2 separate regions of the Homo sapiens genome follow, and region 2 is linked to region 1. Evidence: fine-mapped expression QTL. Tissue or cell type: whole blood. Region 1 holds a variant in brackets; the other region holds the start of a gene. All regions are shown on one strand. Distances are between the middles of the regions.

Region 1 (8,184 bases):
GGGTCTCCAGCCTTCTCTGGTGAACATCCCTCAGCTCCCGTCTGTCCAGCCTACAGGGTCCCCCTTCTCTGTCTGTCTCCAGGTCCCGCCAGGGACATGCAGCCCACCATGAAGTTCGTGATGGACACATCTAAATACTGGTTTAAGCCAAACATCACCCGAGAGCAAGGTAAAAGGAAGCACGAGTGACCCCAGAATAGGGTCTGGGTCTTGCACTTTGCATCAGGCAGGGCCCTGGGTTACAGTTAAGGAATGGCAAATAGTGGGTCCTGGGAAGCGGGGGAGGGGGATGTCCTGCTGACCTCATGACCTCCCGAGGAAGTAGGAACCACAGCAAGAATGGTGGAGATTTGACAGTACAAAGGACTTCCTGGGGACAAAAGGTGACTCTGTAACATCTGCTCTGTGAAGACCCTACGGGGCTGGGGACAGGGTGTCCAGGTGGGGCGGTGTCCATCTCTGACTCAAGGATTGTTCCAGCAATCGAGCTGCTGAGGAAGGAGGAGCCAGGGGCTTTTGTCATAAGGGACAGCTCTTCATACCGAGGCTCCTTCGGCCTGGCCCTGAAGGTGCAGGAGGTTCCCGCGTCTGCTCAGAGTCGACCAGGTATGCGTCTGTCTCTGTGCTCACTCAAGGCCTCACTGAGGCAGCGGGGTGTGGTAGGTTCCAGTCCTGGCTCTGGCACTAGCTTTCAGGGTGACATGGCGCCAGTCTTATAACAGCTCCTAGGAGAAGCGTCCACCCCAGTGTTCTCCCCGATGCCCTCCAGCCCCAAGGCACCCTGAAAAACGCCTTTCACAGCAAGCCTGCGTGCTTCTGCCTTCCCGAGCCCCACCCCCACTTCCCTGCTTTTTTCTGATGGTGGGAGAGAAGGAGGAGGGTCCTAGCCCCCTCTAGGCTGCTCTTCTTGGAGTCAAACTGGATTCATTTCCAGGGAACCTAATGTGTGATTACACACGCAGCTAGCTTATCTCACAGGTGATAGCTTACCAGGTTTGTGTACTAGCTCAGCGCACATGTGTGTGATAGCTTATATGCTTTCCTGTGGTCTCCCATGCTTATTTGATAGCAAACATCTATGGAGCATCACCACACACCAGGCACTGTGTGAGGCAGCAGGGATACAGTGGAATCAGACACAGACACCACCTCACTAGGGAGACAGATGAAAACAGATGATTACAGTACAAGGTACCTGGGTCATAGGCCTCACTCAAACCCCAGGATTGCACCTTCTTATTTAACGGATGAGATAACGGAGGCTCCCAGAGTTACTTAATGACTCCAGAGCAATTAAGTGATAAAGGGAGGATGAAACACCCAGCCTTGTGTTCTTGACAGTATGCCTCACTGTCACAATAAGAAAGTGACCTCTGGGGAGGGTGTTACTTATAAAGGACGCCTTGCAAGAGGCAATGAGCCCAGACTGAGGAGGACACTGTGGACTGGTGGAAAGGAGTCAGAAGGTCATTGTTCACCTCCCCACCCCCGGGGCCAGCGTGGCTCCAGCAGAGATGACCTGGTGGGCAGGGGGAGACAGAAACCAGACCAAAGAGTCGACATTTATCTAAATAATTAAGAAGTTTCCTTGCCAGGCACAGTGGCTCACGCCAGTAATCCCAGCACTTTGGGAGGCCGAGGCAGGAGGATCACTTGAGCCCAGGAATCTGAGACCAGCTTGAGCAATATGGCAAAACCCTGTCGCTACAAAAATTACCCAGGTGTGGTGGAGCACACCTGTAGTCCCAGGTACTTGGGAGCCTGAGGCAGCAGAATCACTTGAACCCAGGAGGTCTTTGAGGCTGCAGTGAGCCATGATCACACCACTGCACTCCTTCCTAGACCAAAGAATGAGACCCTGTCTAAAAAAAATAAAATAAAATAATCCCTAGGCCGAAGCAGGAGAACTGCTTGAGCTCAGGAGTTCGAGACCAGCCTGAGCAAAATAGTGAGACCTTGTCTCTACAAAAGAATTAGCCCGACATGGTGGGGCACGCCTGTAGTCCCAGCTACTCAGGAAGCTGAGGTGGGAGGATTCCTTAAGCCCAGGAGGTTGAGGCTGCAGTAAGCCGAGATCATGCCGCTGCACTCCAGTCTAAGAGACAGAGCAAGACTCTGTCTAAAAAAAAAAAAAAATCCCTGATAACTCTTGACCAGCAGAAAGGTTTCCCCACCCCACCCCCAAAAAAAGAAGAAGAGAAAGGTTTCCTGAAGAGGGTGTGGCTGGAGCCATTGAGCAGATGTGTTGGCACCTCCTCTGTGGGAGGGAGAGGCAGGGGGATGGACAAGGTGGAATTTTTTTTTTTTCCGGTGAGACAGAGTCTCACTGTGTCACCCAGGCTGGAGTGCAGTAGCACAATCTCGGCTCACTGCAACCTCTGCCTCCCAGGTTCAAGCAATTCTCCTGCCTCAGCCTCCCGGGTAGCTGGGACTACAGGCATGTGAACCACGCCCGGCTTTGTGTGTGTGACTGTGTGTGTGTGTGTGTGTGTGTGTGTGTGTGTCTTTAGTAGAGATAGGGTTTTACCATGTGGGTCAGGCTGATCTCGAACTCCTGACCTCAAGTGATCTGCCCACCTCGGCCTCCCAAAGTGCTGGGATTACAGGCGTGAGCCACCGCGCCCGGCCACAAGGTGGAATTCTATCCGAATGCACTCTTTCTTCTCTGTCCAGGTGAGGACAGCAATGACCTCATCCGACACTTCCTCATCGAGTCGTCTGCCAAAGGAGTGCATCTCAAAGGAGCAGATGAGGAGCCCTACTTTGGTGAGACTCCCCAGCCTCCAGGCTCCCCCGGGATGGGGGGCCAGCGAAGTCTCCGTTGTGAGCTGAGGGGTGGGTTGGGGAAGCTCTACTCATGCAGGGCTGCTTGCTTCCTTTCAGGGAGCCTCTCTGCCTTCGTGTGCCAGCATTCCATCATGGCCCTGGCCCTGCCCTGCAAACTCACCATCCCACAGAGAGGTGGGTCTGGGCCCCAAAGAGGCAATGCCAAGGTGGGGGACCTGTTTGTTCTCATTAGAAATGGGGTTCACTCCTACCTTGTTGGTGGATTATTTTAGTGTCACGGTTAAAACTGTGTGCACTGGAGTCGCTCAACATCTCCACCTCCTAGCTGTGAAAATTTGAGAATGTTGACCTCTCTGAGCCTCAGTTTCCTCATCATACCTACTTATAGGATTGCTGTGCAGACCGAAAGAGATAGCCCGGGCAAGGCTCTTAGCGCAATGCCTGGCATAGAATGGATGTTGGATAAATAGCAGCCTGCTTTGAGAGGGTGAAAGAGCCTAAATCAAATAGTTTGGAGAGGTTTTCTCTTTCCAGGTCCAGCATTTGTTGAGCACTCACTCACCCATTCATGCTTCACTACAAGCTTGTGAAGTAGACTTTGCTGTTATCATCCCCATTTCACAGATAAGAAAATAAGGGCTGGGCGTGGTGACTCACGCCTGTAATCCCAGCACTTCGGGAGGCCAAGGCGGGCAGATCACTTGAGGTCAGGAGTTCGAAACCAGCCTGGCCAACATGGTGAAACCCCGTCTCTACTAAAAATACAAAAATTTAGCTGGGCGTGGTGGTGGGCGCCTGTAATCCCAGCTACTCAGGAGGCTGAGGCAGGAGAATCACTTGAGCCGGGGAGGCAGAGGTTGCAGTGAGCTAAGATCGCACCACTGCACTCTAGCCTGGGTGACAGAGCGACAGAGCAAGACTTCATCTAAGAAAGAAAGAAAGAGAGAAAGAGAGAAAGAAGGAAGGAAAGGAAGGAAAAGAAAACGAGGGTTCTAGATGTTACGTAATTTGCCCAAAGGCCCACAGAGTCAGACCTTGAACCCAGATCAGCATGCCCTATCCAGAGCATACAGCCAGGTAGGGGGGCAGCTCAGATGAAATAGATCATCTCAGGGGTGTGCAGGAGAAGCTCGAGAAGGGCTGTTTCTGGAAGGGCATCAAGGCAAGGGAGCCCCAGAGGAGCGATGGTGAGAGCCTCCTCGCTTTCTGCAAAGACAGGTCAGGGGTTGAGACAGGGTCCAAAAGAAGTGAGGAGGTCAGGGGCCTGTGAGGACAAGATCATGGCAGCCATCTAAGAGGTGGGGGGGCGAGGAGGGGATGAAGAGATCAAAAGGGTTGCAAACTAAGCATTTAGGGAGCCCAAAGTGGCCTGTTTGCCTAATTACGGTAATCACACCTGGTTTGAGTCACTTCCTGGAGATGGGGGTGGAGGTGGGAGATCTTCAAAGGGATTCATGAGGCCTGTTCCTGTGAGAGGGGTCCATTCACTCCACCCCCGCCCCTTTGGGGGGCCTGTTTCTTTGCCTTGGCTCAGAACTGGGAGGTGCAGATGGGGCCTCGGACTCTACAGACAGCCCAGCCTCCTGCCAGAAGAAATCTGCGGGTGAGTGGTACAGGAAGGGAGGCGCCAAGCTTGGCTGTGCCCCAAGAGGGCACCTCCCAACCCTGCACACACGCACGCATGCACGCACACACGCACAGGCACACACGTGTTTCCCATCTCAGCTTT[G/T]TTTCTGCATCTTTAACAAGGTGCCACACCCGCTCCCCATCACCCCTGTAAAACAGAAGATGAGAGGCCAGCAGGGAAGTGGGGCAGGGTGGGGGGTGGGGGGAGTGGCAGAACTTACAGTCCCTCCTGCACACACATGGGCATGTGCACACGTGCTAGGGTCTCTCTAGGTCTGAGAAACCTGCCCTAGAGGTGGTTCTGGGTCTGGGATCCTCTATGGGGTGTCAGGTCTAAGTCCTGGAGCCTTCACCAGGGGAAAGGTCCCTGACCCACACTCCCAGAGGCCAGCACACATCAGCACTTGTCTCAGTGACTGTTCCTGCTCTATGCCCTGAGCACGAACAATTTCCTTCCCCATTCTTGTCTTCTGTCCCTACCGTTGCCAATGAACCAAGACCTTGAAGATGGAGGTGTGGGGAGGAGAGCAGCCGTTAAGTGTGGACAGAAGGATGTTTTCCTGGGCACCTCTACACACAGGGCAACATCCCCTCCCCTGCCCCATGCTGGAGGGCCAGGGGCCAGGGCGATGCAAAGCCACAGAAGATCCCAAAGCCCTCTGGGGTTGGCCTCAAACTGTGATCACCCACACACCCACTTTCTGTTGGGTGGCGGCTCTAAGAGGAGCTCCACTGGATTCCTGAACAGGAGACTCACCCCCTCCCCTGGCCCTGGGCAGAGGGAGAACCTGGGCCCTGGGTCAGTGGCCCCAGCGCAGTGTCTGCCTCCCACAGGCTGCCACACCCTGTACCTGAGCTCAGTGAGCGTGGAGACCCTGACTGGAGCCCTGGCCGTGCAGAAAGCCATCTCCACCACCTTTGAGAGGGACATCCTCCCCACGCCCACCGTGGTCCACTTCAAAGTCACAGAGCAGGGCATCACTCTGACTGATGTCCAGAGGAAGTAAGGGCCTTCCCTTGCCCTGGGGCTCCGGGGCTGGCGGAGTAGAGCTGGAGGGGATAGCTGAGACAGCTGCAGATCAGGGATGAAGGTCAAGTTCAGGGTTCTGGATGACCCAGCGGGGCCAGTGATGTGCTGAGTGACTCCAGGCAGCTTCCCTGCCTCCTCCAGGCCTCACTCCACTGCCAAAGCCCCTGTTCATCATGACTGATGAAAATGGAGTTAACGGGGGCCGGGCACGGTGGCTCATGCCTGTAATCCCAGCACTTTGGGAGGCCGAGGCGGGCGGATCACCTGAGGTCAGGAGTTCGAGACCAGCCTGGTCAACATGATGAAACCCCGTCTCTACTAAAAATACAAAATTAGCCGGGCATGGTGGCACGCACCTGTAATCCCAGCTACTTGGGAGGCTGAGGCAGGAGAATTGCTTGAACCCAGGAGGCGGAGGTTGTAGTGAGCTGAGAGCACGCCATTGCACTCCAACCTGGGTGACAGAGTGAAACTCCATCTCAAAAAAGGAAGGAAGGAAGGAAGGAAATGGAGTTAACTAGTATTCATGGGTGCCGATTATGCCTGCACCCATTGATGGAACATCTTCCCTCGGCCAGACTGGCTGACCACTGGGACCCAGAGAGGAATGAGATCGTTCCTTCCCCAGGCTCGGATCTCACAGTCTAACAGGAGCCTGATCCAGGGCTGAGCACTTCACAGGGAGAAACAAGAGATGACCAAGATGTAATTCGTGTCCTCAAAAAGTTAGTGGCCAAAAAAAATTAAATGGCGTGGTAGGGGTGTGATAGAAAACCCCAGAGTGTAAGACAGAGGCAGACAAGCCCCATGAGAGGAGAGAGGCAGGAGCGGGGCGCCAGGGCCCCCCAGTGGGAAAGGCCATAGCGGTCTTCAAGGTCTAACCCAGAGACTTCTTGGAGGACAGGGCACCTGAGCTTGGGGGGAACGAGAGATGCTGGAGGCAGGATGACACTGGGACAGGCTGTCATCGCTTCCCTTCTCTCCCCGCCTCCTCCTAGGGTGTTTTTCCGGCGCCATTACCCACTCACCACCCTCCGCTTCTGTGGTATGGACCCTGAGCAACGGAAGTAAGTTCAAGGCTGGGCCAAACTAAGAAGGCTGTCCAGGGCCCCGCTGCCCACCAAGGCGTCCTGCCGACTCTGGGCCTGGGATCCCAGAGGGAGCCTGTGAACCTCAAGGGGTCAGGGTGACAGAATGAGGGTAGGGTGGGGCATGGTGGGGTGGGGACGCAGCTGGCCAGTCCTGCTGCTCCTCCAGGGTCCTGTGGCATGGAGCGAAGCCTCATTACTCGGTATCATGTTCTTTTCCTACAGGTGGCAGAAGTACTGCAAACCCTCCTGGTAAGGCCTTCCTGTCTCAGGGCCCCAAACCCAACATGGGGAGGGAACTGCAGAAGGAAAGAGGCACCATTCTGACTTTAATAGTCCAAAGTGTTGATGAGGGCACAGGCCCTGGTCCTCAGGGAGCTCCCATCTGATGGGAAAGACTTTGACTGCCCTCAGAGCCTCTGGGCTGTTGGGGGTGACATGAGCCTGGGAGCCCTCAATCTTCTGCAAGAGGCACAGGCTCTAACTTCAGGGAGCCTCAAGCTATTGGAATGTCCCAGTCTGATGATCAAGATGCATCCTTGCCCTCAGGGAGCTTCCACTCTAATGGGGAATGCACAGGTCCTGTCCTCAAGGAGCCCTCACTCAAAACAAAGGAAACCCAGAGCTTGAACTCAGAAATCTCCCAGTCTGACGGGAGAGGCATCTCCTTCCCCAGGGAGCCCCACCATAAGGAGGTGCTGGAGTCAATTGGCTAAGGGAGGGGCAGGGAGGAATGAGATGCAGGCTGAGGGCCCCCCACCACCCCATTCCCACCAGCCTGATGCCTCCCTGGGTCCCACCCCTCACTCAGACTGCCCTCCCCCACCAGGATCTTTGGGTTTGTGGCCAAGAGCCAGACAGAGCCTCAGGAGAACGTATGCCACCTCTTTGCGGAGTATGACATGGTCCAGCCAGCCTCGCAGGTCATCGGCCTGGTGACTGCTCTGCTGCAGGACGCAGAAAGGATGTAGGGGAGAGACTGCCTGTGCACCTAACCAACACCTCCAGGGGCTCGCTAAGGAGCCCCCCTCCACCCCCTGAATGGGTGTGGCTTGTGGCCATATTGACAGACCAATCTATGGGACTAGGGGGATTGGCATCAAGTTGACACCCTTGAACCTGCTATGGCCTTCAGCAGTCACCATCATCCAGACCCCCCGGGCCTCAGTTTCCTCAATCATAGAAGAAGACCAATAGACAAGATCAGCTGTTCTTAGATGCTGGTGGGCATTTGAACATGCTCCTCCATGATTCTGAAGCATGCACACCTCTGAAGACCCCTGCATGAAAATAACCTCCAAGGACCCTCTGACCCCATCGACCTGGGCCCTGCCCACACAACAGTCTGAGCAAGAGACCTGCAGCCCCTGTTTCGTGGCAGACAGCAGGTGCCTGGCGGTGACCCACGGGGCTCCTGGCTTGCAGCTGGTGATGGTCAAGAACTGACTACAAAACAGGAATGGATAGACTCTATTTCCTTCCATATCTGTTCCTCTGTTCCTTTTCCCACTTTCTGGGTGGCTTTTTGGGTCCACCCAGCCAGGATGCTGCAGGCCAAGCTGGGTGTGGTATTTAGGGCAGCTCAGCAGGGGGAACTTGTCCCCATGGTCAGAGGAGACCCAGCTGTCCTGCACCCCCTTGCAGATGAGTATC
Region 2 (8,171 bases), 20 kb before region 1:
CCAGAAATTTGAAGAGGCAAGGAATGGATTCTCCCTTTCAATCCCTGAAAGGAGCATGGCTCTGTCCAATTTCAGGCTCCAGACTGTGACAGAATAAATGTTTGTTGTTTTAAAGCATCAGGTTTGTGGTAATTTGTTACGATAGTCTCGAGAAACTAATAAAACACATCTTAAAAAGTAAAAAGAAGCAGAGGAAATTAATTTTAATAATGTTTTTATTTAACCCAGTATCTATAAAACAGCATCATTTCCACACACAATCAATATAAAAAATTACTGAGCAAGCATGGTGGCTCACGCCTGTAATCCCAGCCCTTTGGGAGGCCGAGGTGGGAGTATAGCTTGAAGCCAGGAGTTTGAGACCAGCCTGGGCAACATAATGTTACTGCATTTCTAGAAAAAAAAAAAATTATTCAATTACTATTGAGATATTTCATATAATTTTTCATACTGAGTCTTTAAAATCTGAATTGTATTTTGCACCCACAGCACATCTTTGTTTAGACTAGCCACATTTCAGGCGCTCCGTATCCACACACGACTAACGCTGACAGAAGATGGCTCAGCTCCAGCCTTTTGTAGGCCTCTTGGTTGCACCAGGCTGAGATTTGGGGGCCTTTCTGTCTATGAGTCATACTCCCCCATGAACAGTGTGCTCCTTGCGGGCAGGAGCCTTGTCCCATTCATCTCTATATCCTAACATCTGAATGCAGGGGCACTCAATAAATTGTTGTTTTTTGTTTATTTGTTTGTTTGTTTGTTCTAGATGGAGTCTCACTCTGACACCCAGGCTGGAGTACAGTGGCGTAATCTCAGCTCACTGCAACCTCCACCTCCCAGGTTCAGGAGATTCTCCTGCCTCAGCCTCCCGAGTAGCTGGGATTACAGGTGCCCACCACCATGCCTGGCTAGTTTTTGTGGTTTTAGTAGAGACGGGATTTCACCATGTTGGCCAGGCTGGTCTCAAACTCCTGATCTCAGGCGATCTGCCCACCTCGGCAGTGTGCCCTCCCAAAGTGCTGGGATTACAGGCGTGAGCCACCACACCCAGCCAAATAAATGTATTTTGAATGAATGAGTAATGTGGGTTCTCTACAAGAAAAAAACTCAGTCAGAAATTACATTTCTTAGTTTCTTTTTTTTTTGAGATGGAGTCTTGCTCTGTCACCCAGGCTGGAGTGCAGCGGTGCGATCTCGGCTCACTGCAAGCTCTGCCTCCTGGGTTCACGCCATTCTCCTGCCTCAGCCTCCCGAGTAGCTGGGACTGCAGGCACCCGCCACCACGCCCGGCTCATTTTTTGTATTTTAATAGAGACGGGGTTTCACTGTGTTAGCCAGGATGATCTCGATCTCCTGACCTCGTGATCCACCCACCTCGGCCTCCCAAAGTGCTGGGATTACAGGCGTGAGCCACTGCACCCGGCCATTTCTTGGTTTCTTTAATTGATTTTCCCTCTCCCTTAGTGAGAGACATGCAGAATACATCAAAATATAGGCTGGACTTTTTTTTTTTAATCTACTTGGAATCCCTTCTTTCAGAAGAGTAGATGTAGGACAAGGTGCCCCCGTCAACTAGGGAAATAGTGTATTTTGAGGTTGAAAAGAAATGCTGTGAATAGGCTTATATCTAGCAAAGAATTGAATTAATAATTAATAACCTTCCAAAACAGAAAGCACCAGGACCAGACAGTTTTACTGGTGAAATCTACCAAACATTTGAGGAAGAAATAGGACCACTTCTCTACAACCTCTTTCAGAAGATAGAAGCAGAAGGAACACTTCCCAACTCATTTTATGAGGCCAGCATTGCTGAAACCAGAGATACAAAAGAAAACTAGACACCAATATCACTCATGAACATAGATGCAAAAATCCTCCACAAAATGTTAGCAAATTGAACCCAACAATGTATTAGAAGAATTATACAGACCCAGGCATAGTGGTACATGTCTGTAATCCCAGCTACTCCAAAGTCTGAAGTGGGAAGATCACTTGAGTCCGGGAGGTTGAGACCAGCCTGGGCAACATAGCAAGACCCCATCACAAAAAAAAAAAGAATTATATACCATGACCAGGGGGTTCATCCCAGGTATGCAAGGAGGGTTCAAAATTCAAAAGTAAATTAATGTAATCTATCACATCCATAGGCTAAAGAAAAAATGTCATATCTATAGATGTATAAAGAAATGCCACTCCATCCATCCCTTGATGATCACGGCAAAGGGCAGTGATGTGGTGTTGGGCAGGGTTTGTGAGGCAGCTGGGGCTGAAATCACTGTTCTGAGACCATCTTAAGCTAAAGGAAGCAGCTGGGTGTGAAACAAAAGAGCCAATCTGCCAAGAAAGACCATAACCCCCAGGTATGGGTCTGTAAGGCTGGAGGACCCCCTGGCCCTGAAGAACCACTGCAGAGGCTATCCATACCAGCCCCAGGGGAGATGGCCAGGGTTACCCCGGAGTTGCCACAGTCTCTGCCCAACACTTCGCCCTACTGTAACCTGCCCCTTCCACTCAAGAAACTCACGAGTCGCCCCTCCCACTCTCCCACAATCATGAGCCACAGCCTCATGGGGGAAGCCGCCATGTGCAGTGACATCCACTCCAGGGCAGGAGCACCACATTTTTCATCCAAAGACATAATTGCTCATCAAGCCATGTGCCAACAAGGCTGCATGGACACCTAGGGACACCTTTTATGTCACCATCAGGAAGGGGCACCTTATATAACTTTCCATAGCTTTGCTCACCGGCCTCCCATGCACTAGTTCACCATGCCTCAGTGAAACCCCAGGGCATCAAAAACTGTAAGGCCAGAAGCCCTTCCACTGGGCATAATGGGGGCATGGGGCAACCCACCCCTGAGATTAGCCTACTGGGATCACCATGAGTCCCTGGGCTGGAGACTTCGCCAGCTCCCTCACTTCAGACCGCTCCCAGACCAGGCTCTGCCATCAGCACCCTCCCCTCACCATGTCTGAACACCTCCTTACAACATTCTAGGACCCCTGCCCCTCTAGAACAGGGAGAGAGTTGGAACCATGGAGAAGGAGCTACCAGACCAGACTTCTGGGCTTCCTGATCTCACCCTCCAATGTCCTCCCCTCAGGGAACTTCCACCCTGGGGCACAGACCAGACGAGGGACAGAGATAGCCCATGAGTGAAGGAACAGCTATAAGCCCCTTCTCAAAGCCCTCCAGACACTTCAGCCTCCTTTCCTTGAGTTAGAGGCCCCATCCCAAGCTAGAGTCATTACTGTAAAAGGAGAGAAAGAAGAAAAGACAAGCTCGTGCCTAGCCTTACTTCCAGTGGGCCCTTACCCTGTGCCTGTCCCAGTGTGACCCAGCACAAAGGGGGACTGCAGAGGGTCTCCTGCCCACTGGCATCCTGCTTTGTCAAGGCCCTCACTCTCTGCCAGCTCTGCCAACCCATGGCCTCTGCCCCAGCCAGCACCTGAGGAGTGCCCACTGCACACCTTGATTCTAGCTATGCCCTGTCCAAGCAAGGACTCCCTGGCCATGTGGTGCCACGAGAAGCCCAAGCAGGAACTTGGGAGCCCCTCACACACACCCAGACCCAAAACCCACCACCCAGTGCTTCCCTTCCTGCTGCCTGTGCCAGCCCCACCTGAGCTCACTGGATCCAGCAGGGGTGGGGCCTACTGCTGTCAGGGCCACGTGCAGGGCCCGCCCGGAGGGGAGGAGAGAAGGCGGGCAAGCTGCTTTTAAGGCAGGTCTGGAGGTGAACTGGCGCCTCTCCTGACTCTTCACCTGGACTCTGAGTCGTCTTGGTCCCAGGAGCCAGTAGTGAAGGCAACAGTCTGCCCACCTGTGGACACCAGGTAGGTGCCTTTATTCTTTAAGAAGAGAGGAACACGGAGCACCTTTGCTGGCCCTGATTCATTTAAACATTTTTTTTTTTTTTTTTGAGATGGAGTCTTGCTCTGTCACCCAAGCTGGAGTGCAGTGGCGCGATCTCGGCTCACTGCCAACGTCTGCCTCCAGGGTTCAAGCGATTCTCCTGCCTCAGCCTCCCAAGTAACAGGGATTACAGATGTTTGCCACCATGCCCGGCTAATTTTCTTATGTTTAGTAGAGACGCGGTTTCACCATGTTGGCCAGGCTGGTCTCAAACTCCTGACCTCAGGTGATCCTCCCACCTTAGCCTCCCAAAGTGCTGGAATTACAGGCGTGAGCCCAGCCTCATTTAACCTTTTGTCTTCAGCTTCTCCATTTCTCAGGGCTCAGAGTGAAGGTGGGGAGAAATGGGGTGGAGGATGTGGATGAGACAGAGATGGTCTCAGGATCACAGACCGCGGAGTTCAGCAGTTCAAGGGAACTAAACCTGTGCCCCTCGGCAAATAGATGAGAGAGCTGAGGGCCACAGAGAAGAGGCTTGCCTGAGGTCATGGAAAGGGACTGGACACAGAACCCAGGCCTCTCGCCTCCCAGCGCTCTGGGAGCCCTCTGGGCACTTCAGAGGTAGACAGGACTGGGAGATGGGGCGGCTGGCCTTCACTGGTCCTATGGGTCCCTGCCTGAGGTCCACGTCCTGCGTCACCGGGTCTGGGTGGGAGGGATGGGAAGATCGGGAGCCAGTTTTCAAAAATAGGGGGTGCAGTGGAGATTGGGCTAATGAGGCAAAGTGCTTTGGGGGAGACTCAGGCTTTACCCTTGCCCCACCCTCTCCCTTCACTGACCTGGGCTCATTGGGAGAGAGTAAGTCAGGAGAAGAGGTTGGCAATGACACGGAAGAGGGGATTTGCCAAGGCACCAGGACTCCCCAGAGTCCTTGGGAACAAAGAAAGAGATCTGAGTCAGAATCAGAAGTGGGAGCGGGTAGGGGGCACCTACAAATAGAGCAGAGGTGGCTGGAGCCCTCCTTGCCCCCGCCCCGTGCCTCCCAACCACACAGAGCCCCGGGCCCAGGGACTCTCCCCACCACTTACAGCAAGAAAGAGCAAGTTAGAGGAGTGTGCGGGGCCGCGAAGGGGGCAGCATTCAGGAATACAGGAGTAAGATGGAGCCCTGCCTTGGTACATCCAAGGGCGACGCAGAGCCTTAAAAGTGAGGGGAGGCTGAAGAGGAGCGTAGGGGCTGCCTGCCCTTTGCTCAGCTCCAGGTCTGTCCCTCTTGGTTCCAGAATCCCAGAAGGGGCAGCGGTGGACAGGGTTCTTAAATATGTGAAGCAGCAGCAGAGGCTAAAAGTGTGGGACCGTGGAGCAAGACCACCTGGGTTTAAACCCCAATTCACAGTTGGGGTTGTATGACCTTGGGCAAATTCCTCAACCTCTCCAGCCCTGCAGCAATAGCACCCTCCTCAGAGAGCTGTTGAGAAAATGCAAGGTGTTCAGTGTCTGTTATTATCACATCCCCATCACACAGATGGGACAACTGAGGTCTGCCCAGAGAGGAAAGGACGCTTGCCCAGCGTGGCACAAAAGCTGTGTCCAAATTAGTAAGCAGGTATACTGGGTCCTGGTTGCGAGGGGACACCCAGCCCTCCTTGAGCTCTGCAAAGTCAGCAGCCCCAGCCTCCTCTGCAGGACACAGCCAGAAAACCCTGCAGGGAGCGCCCAGATCCTGTCCCAACAAACCCAGTCCACTTGGAGCCTGTGTGGAAAAAGCCGTGGTTCCGGCTCTGTGTCCTCAGCTGTCCCGGGAGGGCGGGAGCGCAGAGGCCGGCTCCCTTCCACTTCCATTTATAGAAAGCTTCCCGTGCCCGGGATGCCCCGCCCCCTGCAGGACCTGGCCAAGGAAAAGTCTGGCATCAGACCTACCGGAGCCACGGGCGTTGGGGGAGGCAGGAGAGGGGAAGGGGCCCTGGCTTTTCTCATGAAACCTGTGCGACCTTCAGCCAATCATGCCCCCTCTCTAGATCCCAGGTGTCCCTCTGCACTTGAATTCCATGTGGCATTGTAGCAGGACGAGCCGCAGACAAAACTCCTCAGACACCAAGTTAAAGAAGGAAGGGGTTTATTCGGCCGGGGGCATCAGCAAGACTCCTGTCTCAAGAGCCGAGCTCCCCGAGTGAGCATTTCCTGTCCCTTTTAAGGGCTCACAACTCTAAGGGGGTGCGTGTGAGAGGGTCGTGATCAATTGAGCAAGCAGGGGGTACGTGACTGGGGGCTGCACGCACCGGTAATTACGTGGGAACAAAACAGGAAAGGGATTTTCACAGTGCATTTCTATACAATGTCTGTAATCTATAGATAACATAACCGATTAGGTCAGGGGTCGATCTTTAACTACCAGGCCCAGGGTGTGGCGCTGGGCTGTCTGCTTGTGGATTTCATTTCTGCCTTTTAGTTTTTACTTTTTCTTTCTTTGGAGGCAGAAATTGGGCATAAGACAATATGAGGGGTGGTCTCCTCCCTTAGCATAAGGAATTAAGATTCCAAAATCCCACACCTGGGTTTGAATCCCAGCTCCACCATCTTTCTGGATGTGAAGCGTGTTTCTTGACCTCTCCGAGTCTCAGCATCTTCATCTGTAAAATGGACTGACAACTCAAAATAAATAAATAAGGCCAGGCACAGCGGCTCACACCTGTAATCCTAGCACTTTGGGAGGCCGAGGAAGGAGGAGCACTTGAGCCCAGGAGTTCAAGACCAGCCTGGGCAACAAAGTGAGACCCTCTTTCTACAAAAAATTCTCTGGGTATAGGGCACAAGCCTGTAGTCCCAGCTACTCGGGAGGGTGAGCTGGGAGAATCGCTTGAGCCCCAGGAGGTCAAGGCTGCAGTGAGCCATGACTGTGCCACTGCACTCTAGCCTGGGCAACAGAGCGACACCTTGTCTCAAGAAAAAAAAACAAGAGGACTGACAATAGGGTGCAGTACTTCCTAGAGCTGTGAGAGGATTGAGTTACCAATGTAATTCGTATGTAAACTATTTGGCACATGGTCAGCGCTCAATAAATGGAAGCTACTATTATGAGGCTGTTATACTCCATAAGTCCTTATTTCTAAGTACTATTTAGAATTGCCTAACTACCTTCACAAGGAGCACCTCACTGGTTCCATAACACTCTCTGGGAGGGTGCAGGAATTCTCATTACCATCTCACAGATGAGGAAACTCAGGGTCAGAGTCACACCATAAGGAGCTATTTGAGCTAGAAGTCAAATCTAAACCTTCGGATCCCAGAGTCCACTTTCTCTTCTCCCAGGCTAGTCTCAGATACCTTTTCCAGTGCTAAGGTCTGACTCCAAAACAGGACGTAAAGGAGGCGTTTTGGCAACGAGAAGAAAGAGAGTTGGGGGGTGTTGGTGGGGGCTGGGGACCAGCAGCAAAGCTCAGAGCAGGCAATGGGAGTGTAACCAGCACATTGCAGCTCTGTACAGTTTTCTTGGCAGCCTCAGTCCCAGAACTTCTTACCTCCTTACCAAGCCCCACCTACAAGAAACTAGCATGTGGCATTAAGGTTAGACAATGGAAAGGACTTTTCACAGTAAGGAAAATGAGGAGGTTGAGACATCTCTTTCCCAAATGAGCCCCAAGGAAATGAATATCATCTGATGATGTCACTCCCCAGCTCAAAACTTTTCAGAGCCTCCCTGTTGCCCTCAGGGTTGAGCTGGCAGTCCTGAGCCCAGCCTGCAAGGCCCTACGGGATCTGGCCAGCCTGCCTCCCCCGCCCCATCTCCTCCACCCACCCCAGGTGCTCTGTTACTCAGGTGCTCAATAGGGTCTTGTGAGCTTCCCTGCTGGCCAGACTTTTGCACAAATGGTCCCCTCTACTTTGTTTATTTATTTGTTTATTTGTTTAGTTAGAGACAGAGTCTTGCTCTGTCATCCAGGCTGCAGTGCATTGGCTCGATCTCGGCTCACTGCAACCTCTGCCTCCCAGCTTCAAGCAATCCTCCTGCCCCAGTCTCCTGAGTAGCTGGAATTACAGGCACGTGCCATCATGCCAGCTAATTTTTATATTTTTAGTAGAGATGGGGTTTCACCATGTTCACCAGGCTGGTCTCGAACTCCTGACCTCAAGGGATCAGCCCACCTCAGACTCCCAAAGTGCTGGGATTACAGGTGTGAGCCATCACGCCCAGCTCATCCCCTCTAACTTAAATCTTCCTCTCTGCCTCCTCATCCCTACTCAACTTGCGCAGCTACCTCTTGCTTTTCCTTCTTATCTCCCTTTGCGTGTCCCTTCCTCCAGGAAGACCTCCCT

What was found. PIP is the estimated chance that this variant, and not a neighbour inherited with it, causes the effect.
Region 2: it holds the start of TNS4, and the variant in region 1 is fine-mapped to the expression of TNS4 in whole blood (TOPMed, PIP above 0.99).

What each region holds. Positions count from the first base shown.
Region 1 is chr17:40,476,906-40,485,089 of GRCh38, reverse strand. TNS4 (tensin 4) reads left to right here. Exons shown (of 13, transcript NM_032865.6): 5 at 83-169; 6 at 481-606; 7 at 2,674-2,766; 8 at 2,884-2,961; 9 at 4,322-4,390; 10 at 5,248-5,416; 11 at 6,442-6,510; 12 at 6,757-6,783; 13 at 7,361-8,184. The coding sequence ends at 7,502. Among named protein-coding and RNA genes, the nearest start is that of TNS4, 21 kb to the left of the region's middle. RefSeq lists a silencer at 3,606-3,791 and an enhancer at 3,774-4,973. The variant G/T (reference allele first, on the strand shown) is at 4,517.
Region 2 is chr17:40,497,202-40,505,372 of GRCh38, reverse strand. TNS4 (tensin 4) reads left to right here and starts at 3,750. Exons shown (of 13, transcript NM_032865.6): 1 at 3,750-3,839. RefSeq lists an enhancer at 5,337-6,208.